Linked DNA regions of Homo sapiens: region 2 is linked to region 1. Evidence: fine-mapped QTL for protein levels in blood plasma. Region 1 holds a variant in brackets. A gene starts in the other region. All regions are shown on their reverse strands.

What was found. A credible set is the group of variants that fine-mapping cannot tell apart. PIP is the posterior inclusion probability: the model's chance that the variant is causal. Protein levels are from antibody-based Olink assays in UK Biobank. Linkage for the fine-mapping came from a reference panel and not from the study's own genotypes, which makes the PIPs less certain.
Region 2: it holds the start of LY75, and the variant in region 1 is the best candidate, but not a certain one, in a credible set for the plasma level of the LY75 protein (UK Biobank, PIP 0.52).

What each region holds. Positions count from the first base shown.
Region 1 is chr12:111,567,837-111,573,212 of GRCh38, reverse strand. All of the region lies in intron 1 of ATXN2 (ataxin 2), which reads left to right. Among named protein-coding and RNA genes, the nearest start is that of ATXN2, 29 kb to the left of the region's middle. RefSeq lists a silencer at 2,449-2,646. The variant G/A (reference allele first, on the strand shown) is at 3,261.
Region 2 is chr2:159,902,406-159,907,781 of GRCh38, reverse strand. LY75 (lymphocyte antigen 75) reads left to right here and starts at 3,026. Exons shown (of 35, transcript NM_002349.4): 1 at 3,026-3,193. The coding sequence starts at 3,100. It overlaps LY75-CD302 (LY75-CD302 readthrough), which reads left to right and starts at 3,026. Exons shown (of 38, transcript NM_001198760.1): 1 at 3,026-3,193. The coding sequence starts at 3,100. RefSeq lists silencers at 2,824-3,065, 2,835-3,294 and enhancers at 3,475-3,554, 3,695-3,744, 3,965-4,014, 4,065-4,114.

The DNA of each region.
Region 1 (5,376 bases):
TCAAAAAATAAATAAATAAATAAATAAAAATAATAACAATAATGAAGAAAACAATCCGGTGATTATTGTCAGCAATAAAATTTCTTCAATCAACCATGCTTTAGTCCTGGCAGTTCTCTATCAGTGAGTTTCAATCAAAAAGTTTGTTTATAATTTTTTTTTTTTTAAAATTTTGAAATTTGGAAACAACATCATAAATGATGGTTAGTTTTCTGCAGCTCCCTATTTTGGCAGATAGTCTGTTGTTACTCATAATTAATTTGAACTAAAAAGTAGTGTTGTACGATATCATGGGCTGTGAATGTGTTTGTGACTTGATCTGAGAACCCACACACCACTTAGGATGCTTCTGTAGGAAAATTAGAGTATGGAACTCACTTGCCCACGCTTTCCCTGTCTCAGTCCATGTTGGTAGGCTGCAAAGTCTGGGGCTAGAAGGACACTGAACAAGACTTCAGCAGTACATGTTAGTCTTCCAGAGGGAAGGAATATAATAGTTGAGAGAATAATTCCTTTCCTCTGTGACTTTAGGCAAATTCTTGGCTATGCTGTTATTTATTTGGGCCAAACAATATCAGGAGGTTGTACATTTTATTCTTAATTACTGCGATACATTAATTTTATCCATGGGTTTAACCTAGCCTACCTTTTGCTGTTAGACTTCAACTCTACTTGTGTTGGGTTACCCCTCTGCTTAAAAATCACCCTATTCCCAAGCCTGAGGGAGTCTACCTTCAAAGCTTTCTATGACCTAATCCAAGGCCTGTCAAACTTCGTAAAGGGCCAGATAGTAAATTTGTTTTTTTTTTTTGAGATGGAGTTTTGCTCTTGTCACCCAGGCTGGAGTGCAATGGTGCCATCTTGGCTCACTGCAACCTCTGCCTCCCAGGTTCAAGTGATTCTCCTGCCTCAGCCTCTCAAGTAGCTGGGGTTATAGGCATGTGCCACCACGCTCGGCTAATTTCTTTGTATTTAGTAGAGATGGGGGTTTCACCATTTTGGTCAGGCTGGTCTCGAACTCCTGACCTCAGGTGATCCACCTGCTGCGGCCTCCCAAAGTGCTGGGATTACCAGTGTGAACCACCGTGCCCAGCCCGATAGTAAATATTTTAGGCTTTGCAGTCCATATACAGTCCCATTTTTTTGTGTATGTTTGCACGTTTTCTTTACATATTTTAAAAGCCCCTTTTTTTTTTTTTTTGAGACAGAGTCTTGCTGTGTTGCTCAGGCTGGAGTGCAGTGGTGCAATCTTGGCTCACTGCAACCTCTGCCTCCTGGGTTCAGGCGATTCTCCTGTCTCAGCTTCCCGAGTAACTGGGATTACAGGCACATGCTGCCACGCCCAGCTAATTTTTGTATTTTTAGTAAAGATGGGGTTTCGCCACATTGGCCAGGCTGGTCTCCTGATCTCAGGTGATCTGCCCACCTCTGCCTCCCAAAGTGCTGGGATTACAGGTGTGAGCCACCGTGCCTGACCTAAAAGCTCTTTACAGTGTAAAAAATATTCTGAGCTTTAAGCCATGTGAAAATAGGCCATGGGCATTTGCTGACCCCTAATAGAACTCCATTTTACCTTTCTGATCATGTTTCCCATTAACTCTTCAAAAATATGACCTCCATTTAAATCAAGATGGTCTCCTTCCTCACTGCTTGTGGAGGTCCAGTGCCCAGTGTCTGCCTCTTGCTTGCTCCTCCATCATTGTTCTGCCATTCGAGATCCTCATACTTACCCTTTAAGATCTAGCCCAAATTTTCCATGAAACTAATTCTAATAATTAAAAACTTCCTGTAGAACTTAACTTTGTCTAGTACAAGTTAGCTTTCTTATTCAGTAGTAGCTTACTATAAATTACAAGAATAAAAAGATTACCATTTTCCCTCACACTGTTTTGTGGAGAATGCCTAAAGTTACTTTTTCTTTTTACAGGTCAGTATTCCTATTTGGCATCCTAATCCCCTTTCCCAAATCTGAATTTTGGGATTTGAAGCTTGCATTTGAGATTATGATTTGTCTTCCTTGTTGTACACAGGAGCAGGGACTTTACAATTAGTATTCGCATCCCTGCTCCTTCATACTTCGTGATGTAAGGCAAGTTATTTTCACTTATGCTTAAGTTTCTTCCCCTGTAAAAAGGGGATGGAAGAGGATTAAATGAATTAAACATGTAACACGCTTAAAGCAATGCCTGGCAAGTAATAAGTGCTCAGTAACTTTTAGCTGTTCTTATTAGCATGTTTGGAAACCAGTAGAAACTACACCAGCAAGTTAAGGTTGAAAAGTGGTATTGATGGGCTTGGGGTAGTACAGTATGAATGGCTACAGTTTAGCGTTTCATTAAGTTTGTATATTCATTAATTCATTACACATTTGATGCTGTCAGACTAGGACAGAGACAAAGATGAATGAAACATTATCTCTGCTTCCAGGTTACCCAGTGTAGTAGAGAAGGCAGGCATGCAGATAGTTTAAATTGGTAGCACTGGGAGGGGACTGCCATGGGTGGGCAGTGAAGAAAAAGGGCTTCAAAATAATGAGAGTTGAGATGGATCTTCAAGGAAGATAAGCAGTTTTCAGTAAGGCCATGAAGAGAGGAGGAAGTTCCAGGCGGGAAGAGTTTGTGCTAAAGTACAGGGATTGCTATACACATGGTGTATGTAGAAAAAATTTGGTTCACAGTGTGATAGAAGAATTGGAGGGGGTCCTCACTGAAAGTAAGGAAACACATTTGGAAGAATATGTTTCAGTTAGAAAATGAAATGAGCTTAAAGTAAACGCTAATAAGGTTTTTAAAATGTAAAATTTCAACGTATTTAGAAAGAGAACAGCTGGATGAATCTTATGTACCTGTCACTCAGCTTTAGCAGTTATCAGTAAATGGCCAACGTTGTTTCAGCTATACTCCCCTCTCCTCCACTGATAGTCTTTTGAAGGGGAATACAATTGTTTTGTGGCCTCCAGAAAGGGATAAGTTTATGAGCAACGGGTAGATCGTTGGGAGAGACTTGAGTTTCCTGTCAGGAAGCATTCTTGGTGCATAAGTCAGAGGTGATATGAATGCCGTGGAAGGGGGTGGCTTACTGTCTGGAGAACTCGAGAAGATGGGAATGGGCACTGTCCAGTATTGTGGCTACTTCCACACATGGTTCTTTAAATTTAAAATTATGTTGATTAAAATTTAAATATTTCAGTTCCTCAGCCATACTAATCGTATTTCAAGTGCTTAGCTGCCACATGTGCCTAATGGCTGCAATATTGGACA[G/A]CATGACATAGGACATCTTCATCATTGTACAAAGTTCTCTTGGACAGCATGGGACTAGAGCCCTAAGATCCTTTTCTACCTGAGTTGTTTGGATTTTTTGGTGTGTCTAGGTTGGATCTAGTTGTTCATGGCTTCATGACCAAGCCTTTTATCCCTTTCTCTAGAGGGACTCAAGGGGTAAAGGCACTGAAGGGGTAAAACTTCATATGAAGAGTGTGGTGGTGGTGGTGGTGTTTTAAGACAGGGTCTCGCTCTGTCACTCAGGCTGGAGTCCAGTGGCATGATCCTGGCTCACTGCAGCCTCGACTTCCTGGGCTTAAGTGATCCTCCCACCTCAGCTCCCAAGTAACTGGAACTGTAGGCATGAGCCACCACACCTGCCTAATTTTTAAAACTTTCTGTAGAGACGAGATTTCGCCATGTTGTCCAGGCTGGTCTCAAATTCCTGGACTCACCTTGGCCTCCCAGAGTGCTGGGATTGCAGGTGTGGGCCACTGCGACTGGCCTTTTTTTTCTCCTTTACTACTCTAGTGTATGCTGGAATATGAGGAAATAATTATATTAGCTAGCAGTTATTAAACACTTAATAACATACCAGGCACTGTTTTAAGCTATGCGATCTGTATGGAATATTACTTAATTTCCACAACCTTATGAAAAGATACTATTTTTTTTCTTTTGAGAAGGTACTATTTTCATCTTCATTTCATAGATGTTGAAATTGAAACACAGAGAGCTGAAGTCACAGGATTAAGGCCACAGAGCTGAGAAGTGATGGAGCCGGAATTTGAACCCAAGCAATTAATGCTGATATTAGTTCTTGTGTGAATGGTAATTGTTTTGAAACAATGATCCTAGATGATTATATGACCGGATTAATCTGGCAGTTGTTCTGTGTGAATTTAGAGTTGCCTTCCCACCTCAGTTTCCTAAAAACAAAACAAAACAAAACAAAACAAAAAAAACTCTAGCTTCACTGTGTTTGGGTTGTCATGGCCTACCCCCTCTTGCCACCTCATTTGACTCAACTTTTTAGGGAGAAAATATTCAATACGTGGTATAGGATTTCCCTTTCTAATAATAATGTAAACAACAACAAGAAGTCTGAAATTGGAAGAACAAAATGACTCACCTAAGTGAGTTAACCTTAAGAGGTGGAACTTGATTTCTAGATTTTAGTTAATTGTCTAACTGATGTACTAAATATTAGTTACTTAAGTATTAAAACGGGTAGACATAATAGTTGGGGAGCTGCTGTAGAGGGGGTAGTTTGAGAAGGCTTCTTTCAGGAGGTGACATTTAAGTTGGTAACTAACAAGAAAGGGGCAGCCATGTGAATAGCTGGAGGGAAGAGCATTCTTACAGTTTTACTGGAAGGGGGTTAGAGGTATGTGGTACCCTTATGCCAAAGAAAATTAGTTACTTCTATACAACCAGTCTGATTCTAGAAACCTGGATCAATGAAATATTTTGATTATATAAAAAAATCTGTTACCCAGGTCTTGTTGAAATAGCATTAGAAACTACTGAAGGACATATAGAGGAGGAGTGTTGAAAAATGGTGATGGATGAGCAGAATGGTGAAAAATAAAAAGACATGAAGCTCTATAATTATATTGTATGGTGACAGTACCAATAGAGATTGCATGTTTTTTCTCCCCAGTTTTTTTTTTTGTTTTGTTTTTTGTTTTTGAGACAGAGTCTCACTGTGTCACTCAGGCTGGAGTGCATTGTCGTGATATTGGCTTACTGCAACCTCTGCTTCCTGGGTTCAAGCGATTCTCCTGCCTCAGCCTCCTGAGTAGCTGGGATTACAGGCATGTGCCACCACGCCCGGCTAATTTTTGTATTTTTATTTGAGAGGGGATTTCACCATGTTGGCAAGGCTGGTCTTGAGTTCCTGACCTCAGATAATCCACCTGCCTCAGCCTCCCAAAGTGCCGGGATTACAGGTGTGAGCCACTGCGCCCGGCCTCCCCCAGTTGTTGAAACAATAATGGAAGGTAATTTTATTCTTAGATTATTTAATGTTTTTCAGTTATCAGGATGTGTTAGATTGTTTGTGTATATTGTTTTGCTTGTTAATTAAGTAACACAGTGAATAAGACAGACAAAC
Region 2 (5,376 bases), not on the chromosome of region 1:
GATATTTGGAAGAAGGTTAACCCCTTGGTAGAAGTGTTTTACGTAAAATGTCAGATCTAAACAGAAACTTCAAGAAAGGTTGGAACTAAGACAAAGGGAAAATGGCATTCTGGATATGCATATATGGGCAGAGATAAGAAAAGGCAAGACAGGTTCAGACAGGTAGCTTGAACCAAAGAGTGACATATGAAGGGAGTAAAGAGAAAGGGTCAGATTAGGCCAGGCACGGTGGTTCACAACTGTAATTCCAGCACTTTTGGAGGCTGAGGCGGGCGGATCACCTGAGGTCAGGAGTTCGAGACCAGCCTGACCAACATGGAGAAACCCTGTCTCTAATAAAAATACAAAATTAGCCTGGCCGTGGTGATGCATGCCCGTAATCCCAGCTACTCAGGAGGATGAGGCAGGAGAATCGTTTGAACCCAGGAGGCGGAGGTTGCAGTGAGCTGAGATCGCGCCATTGCACTCCAGCCTGGGCAACAAGAGTGAAACTCCATCTCAAAGAAAGAGAAAGGGTCAAATTGTAGAGGTACTTGCTTTTTGTCTTAGAGTTTTCTTTTTGTATCATGGGCTTCTCTGGGATTCTCATGAAAGCCTTGTACCCTTCCTCCTCCTCCTCAAAACATAGTGCATTTATAAAGCTGCATAAAATTTCAGGGTTTCATAATTTCCCTTAAGTAGCATTTAGGAGCTCCTGCTATATGCAAATAGCACTGAAAGGATTTGAGTAGAAAAGTGGCATGTTCCAAACAGTGTTTAGAAGGATTCATTTGCCAGAGAGGATAATAACTGTTGGCAGTGAGGTCAATTGATAAATTATTGCAATATAATGCAAGTAGGAGCTCATATGGCCCTAGGCTAAGGTGGTGGCCCTAGGAATCCATCCATCGATTAAACTAACATTTATTGAGAGCTGACTTTGGGACAGGCCCTGTGCCCAGTGTTGAGGATGTGATAATGAATACGGCAAGACCACTGCCCTCAAGGAGCTCCAAGCTGGGCAGGATCAGAAAGAAAGGCAGGCAGCCACAGAGGCAGAGGGGATCAGGTCAGTGGCAGGTTCTCCTACTCAGAACTTCCCACCATCTGTGCCTTAGAATAAATTCAAGGCCCTTCACAAAACAGACACAACTCACCTTTCTGCTGTCATTTCCACTGGGGCCCCCACCACAACCACTTTGATCTCTCTCACAGACACACCCCCCGCAGGGCAGCTACCCTGGACTCTGGACTGTCTTCTGACTCTGCTTGCATTTTCTGGCCTCTGCCCTGTCACTGGTTTTCTCCCACCAGCTGTGCCTGCTCAAATTCCTACCCATTCTTTAAGACCCAGCTAAGATGTTGCCTTCCCTCAACATTTGTCAGAGTTTCCCCATTCATTCTGCCCTGTGTCACTGAGTGTGCCTGTATTAGGGTTCTCTAGAGGGACAGGACTAATAGGATACATGTATATATGAAAGGGAGTTTATTAAGGAGTATTGACTCATATGATCACAAGGTGAAGTCCCACAATAGGCTGTCTGCAAGCTGAGGAACAAAGAAGCCAGTCCGAGTTCCAAAACCTCAGAAGTAGGGAAGCCAACAGTGCAGCCTTCAGTCTGTGGCCGAAGGCCAGAGATCCCCTGACAAACCACTTTTATAGGTCTAAGAGTCCAAAAGCTGAAGAACCTGGAGTCCGATGTTCGAGGGTAGGAAGCATCTAGCACGGGAGAAAGGTGAAGGCCAGGAGACTCAGCCAGTCAAGTCCTTCCAACTTCTGCCTGCTTTTATTCTAGCCATGCTGGCAGCTGATGAGATGGTGCCCACCCAGACTGAGGGCTGGTCCGCCTCTCCCAGTCCACTGTTAATCTCCTTGGCAACACCCTCACAGACACACCCAGGAACAATACTTTGCATTCGTTCATATCAATCGAGCTGACAATATTATCCATCACAGTGCCTCAGTCTCCCCAGTATTCAGGGGAGGGCAGAGATGTTGTCTTTTTGTCCTTCTGTTCCATGGCGTGCCCAGATCCTGTGATGGCAGGTGCTCACTATATCTATGGAACTGAAAGGCCAGACCCTGGGGAGAGGACAGAGCAGGTTTGGGAGCCAACTGTGAAACCTTGGCAGTGGGAGTCAGGAAGAGCAACCTAGGTCTTTGCATCCTCATGCAACAAGGATGGAGGCCACCTCAAGTACACATTATGTGCTCAGCAAAGACGAGATTTAAAAGTATAAAACATTCACATTTGAGCAACTTAGGTCATTAAGAATTTGGCCTCTTTATAATGATAGCAGTGTCCACAGGAAGAGAGTGAGTGGGACATGAAATTTCTGGTTCTGCATGCAGACTTCTACATTTCTACCAGCTAATTATTATTATCATTAAATTATTAAGCAAAGAGCTTACTCGCAAAGGTCAACTTTTTATAAAGCATAAGTCATCCTTGGAAGTGTCGTTTGGTCATTCTAGTAATTCTTGCTTTTAATTCTTTAACAACTATGGGTAGAACTGCAGTGTACCATTATTCCACCTTTGTTTGCACTGTCAAAATACCCAAGACGTTGCCAAGGACGACTGAATTCTTAGGCTTGGCCGCAGCCACCCACAGGGCAGGTGCTCACTTCCTCCTCCGGGGTAGAAGAGATCATGGGTCCCTTTCCAGTCCAGGCTGGAATGGAGAAGTCGTCCCTGACCACAGTGCGCCAGGCAGAGGCCAAGGTTCTAAACTGATAGAACCCACCCACCAGGGCGGTGCCAAGTCCCAGTAAGGGCCGCATCTCCCCAGCTTGGCTGATGAAGAGGCGGGGACCGAACCCTCCAGTGCAGGAGCCTGTCTGGTGCCTGGCTCTCCCACCGATCCGCACGTACCTCTTCCTCGCGGGTCCTACCCCACGCAGGTATCTAGCGCCCAGCCCTGTTCATTTCCCACACCTGGCCCGCTCCGCCCCGGGGCCGAGGAGACGCACGTCTGATTGGCCGAGGGCGGCGGGGGCGGGGCCGGGGCGCCCCCAGAGGCCTAGACAGAGGTGCGGGCGGGGCAGGCCGCGCTCAGCAGGCGGGGCGGGAGCCGCGTGCGCCCGAGGACCCGGCCGGAAGGCTTGCGCCAGCTCAGGATGAGGACAGGCTGGGCGACCCCTCGCCGCCCGGCGGGGCTCCTCATGCTGCTCTTCTGGTTCTTCGATCTCGCGGAGCCCTCTGGCCGCGCAGGTAACCGCGGGCACGCCAGCCCCGCAGTCCGCTGGGTGCCTCGACGCCACAGCTCTGCTGCCTTCCAGCCTGGGGCAGGGCTGCGCCCCTGGGGCAGGTCACGGCTGCTTTGCTGTTGGGGCGGGGGGGCTCTGGAGCCGGAAGAGTGAGTCGCAGGGGAGGTCTGGCAGAGGAAGCGCCCCAGTGCCCTCGGGGGCCCGGAGGAGGGCGCGGTGGATGTGGGAGGACAGGGCCCTTCTGGTGCAGAGGGGACGCGGTGCACCGTAGAGTAGGCGCACGGAGGCTTTTTTGGCCGGGTGCGCTGCTCCATCGTCGCCTCTCTTATATAATGTTGCTGGAGTATGGGGTTCCCCATCTGCCCTCTTGCGTCCCGTCCCTCCCGTTCTCGCTTTTCCTTCGGCCCTTGGTCACCTTGGCCACAGGGCCAAGAGGAGCCTCCACCCACAGCGCCAAGGATTCCCCACGATTCCCGGATTTCACTGCGCCTACGGTGCGCATCAGGAAGGAAGTCAGGTTAAATAAACCATCTCCTCCGAAAGTGACCAAGACCAAGAGTCAGCTATGATGCCCTCACCCACCGCCTAGAGCAACAAACCTTTCTTCTCATTGGTTTATCAGCTCCAAATGACCCCGCTCCCCCAAGGCTGACAGCCTCACGGTGAAGGGCAGGTCGCCTGCTTGGGGACCTGCTGCCTCTCACTGCGGAAGCAGGACCAGAAACAGACAGCCTTCATTGATGTTCAGGGTAGTGCCAGCCCCACCACACCACACCCCTTGGCAGCAACCGGTTGCTTTTACTTTCTCTTTTTGCCTGGGCGAGGGGTGTGCAGAGAACTTTGTTTCTTGGTTGGACTGCATCATGGGCACTCAATGGGCCACCCTCCACCGGCCACTTCTGTTATCGTGCCTGTATGAGGAAGGAAAAGATTGTCCAGGCAGTTTGAAAAACATTAAATTGTTGGTGGCTCTTATTTTCTTTGCAGCTAAGCTAAGTTACCATCTGGTTTAGACTTCCTTCGGAGAGCGATGGGAAGAGATTTCTCAGAGTGTGAATGGCATCATCCTATCTACAGCAAGGACCTGGAAATGAACCCTGCTCTGAGTCACACTTCTCTATTCTCCTTTGACCCTGTGTGCTAGGAACTACCAAAAGAATCCTTTAAAATAAGATCCTTTATTGCCTTGATAATTTATTCTGCCTGCCCCACAATCCAAGGTGGAAAAGTTCACTGCAGCAACTAACTACAGTGAAAATGCACTAACTTTTCAATCACTAACCTCTTGGTTCCCATCGACATCTGCTTCAGTCCTGTTTTTATCTCCTTCACAAATTTCAGGATTTCCCTAATTCTTGCAATCTCTGCAATCACTGCCCTTTATCACTGACCCAAAGCAAAAAGCACCAGGTTTAACTCTGTTCCCCCTGTGCTAGGTCCCCACAGGTTTTGTTATCCTGTATCCTTCCTTACTCCTAGCAGCTACTCTGATCGATTTTCTCTCACCCTCAGAGCAGACTTGTGGCCTTGTTTGGGGAAGCACTGGAATTTTGAACCCCCAGCCATTTGGGTCAATTGTTTGGCAAGAGTGTCCGCTTCATGATGCTGGTGATGGCATGCACCTCGTCACATGTGCACGGCTAGGCTTGTGCAGGTGGCCTCTATTACCCAAACACTGAAGGAGCCCCTCTGTGTCCTTGGAGAGATGCCAGGTGCTTAGTTTACATTTTTGCCTGCTTGGAGAGCTAACAGCTTGAAGTAAACCAATCCATCAGGGACTCCTGAGGTTTTCACCAGCCAACACCACCCAATCGTGCGTGAAGACTTTCTGACTCCCTGGACATTGCCATGGACTCAACTGTCACTTCAGGACCTGTTTTTGAACTAACAAACCTAGACTTCTGATTCTCTCTTGCTGCACCTACCTGTACATTCCGAACACATGGTAGAGACTCTACAAAATGCTTAATATGTGATCTATGGACGGTTCCCCTGAAATTATAAATGCTGCCATCTTCATCCTTCTTGTTTTCCCAAGCTATTTCCCTATCCATTTGTCTGTGGTTATAAATGTCAATATCCAGCTTCTCTTTGGAATGTGTGAAGCTCTTTGGTCTAGGGACCAAAGGCAGGAATTATTTAGTGATCAGACAATAAGAAAACACTGAAAGAGATGATTTGCCTTTG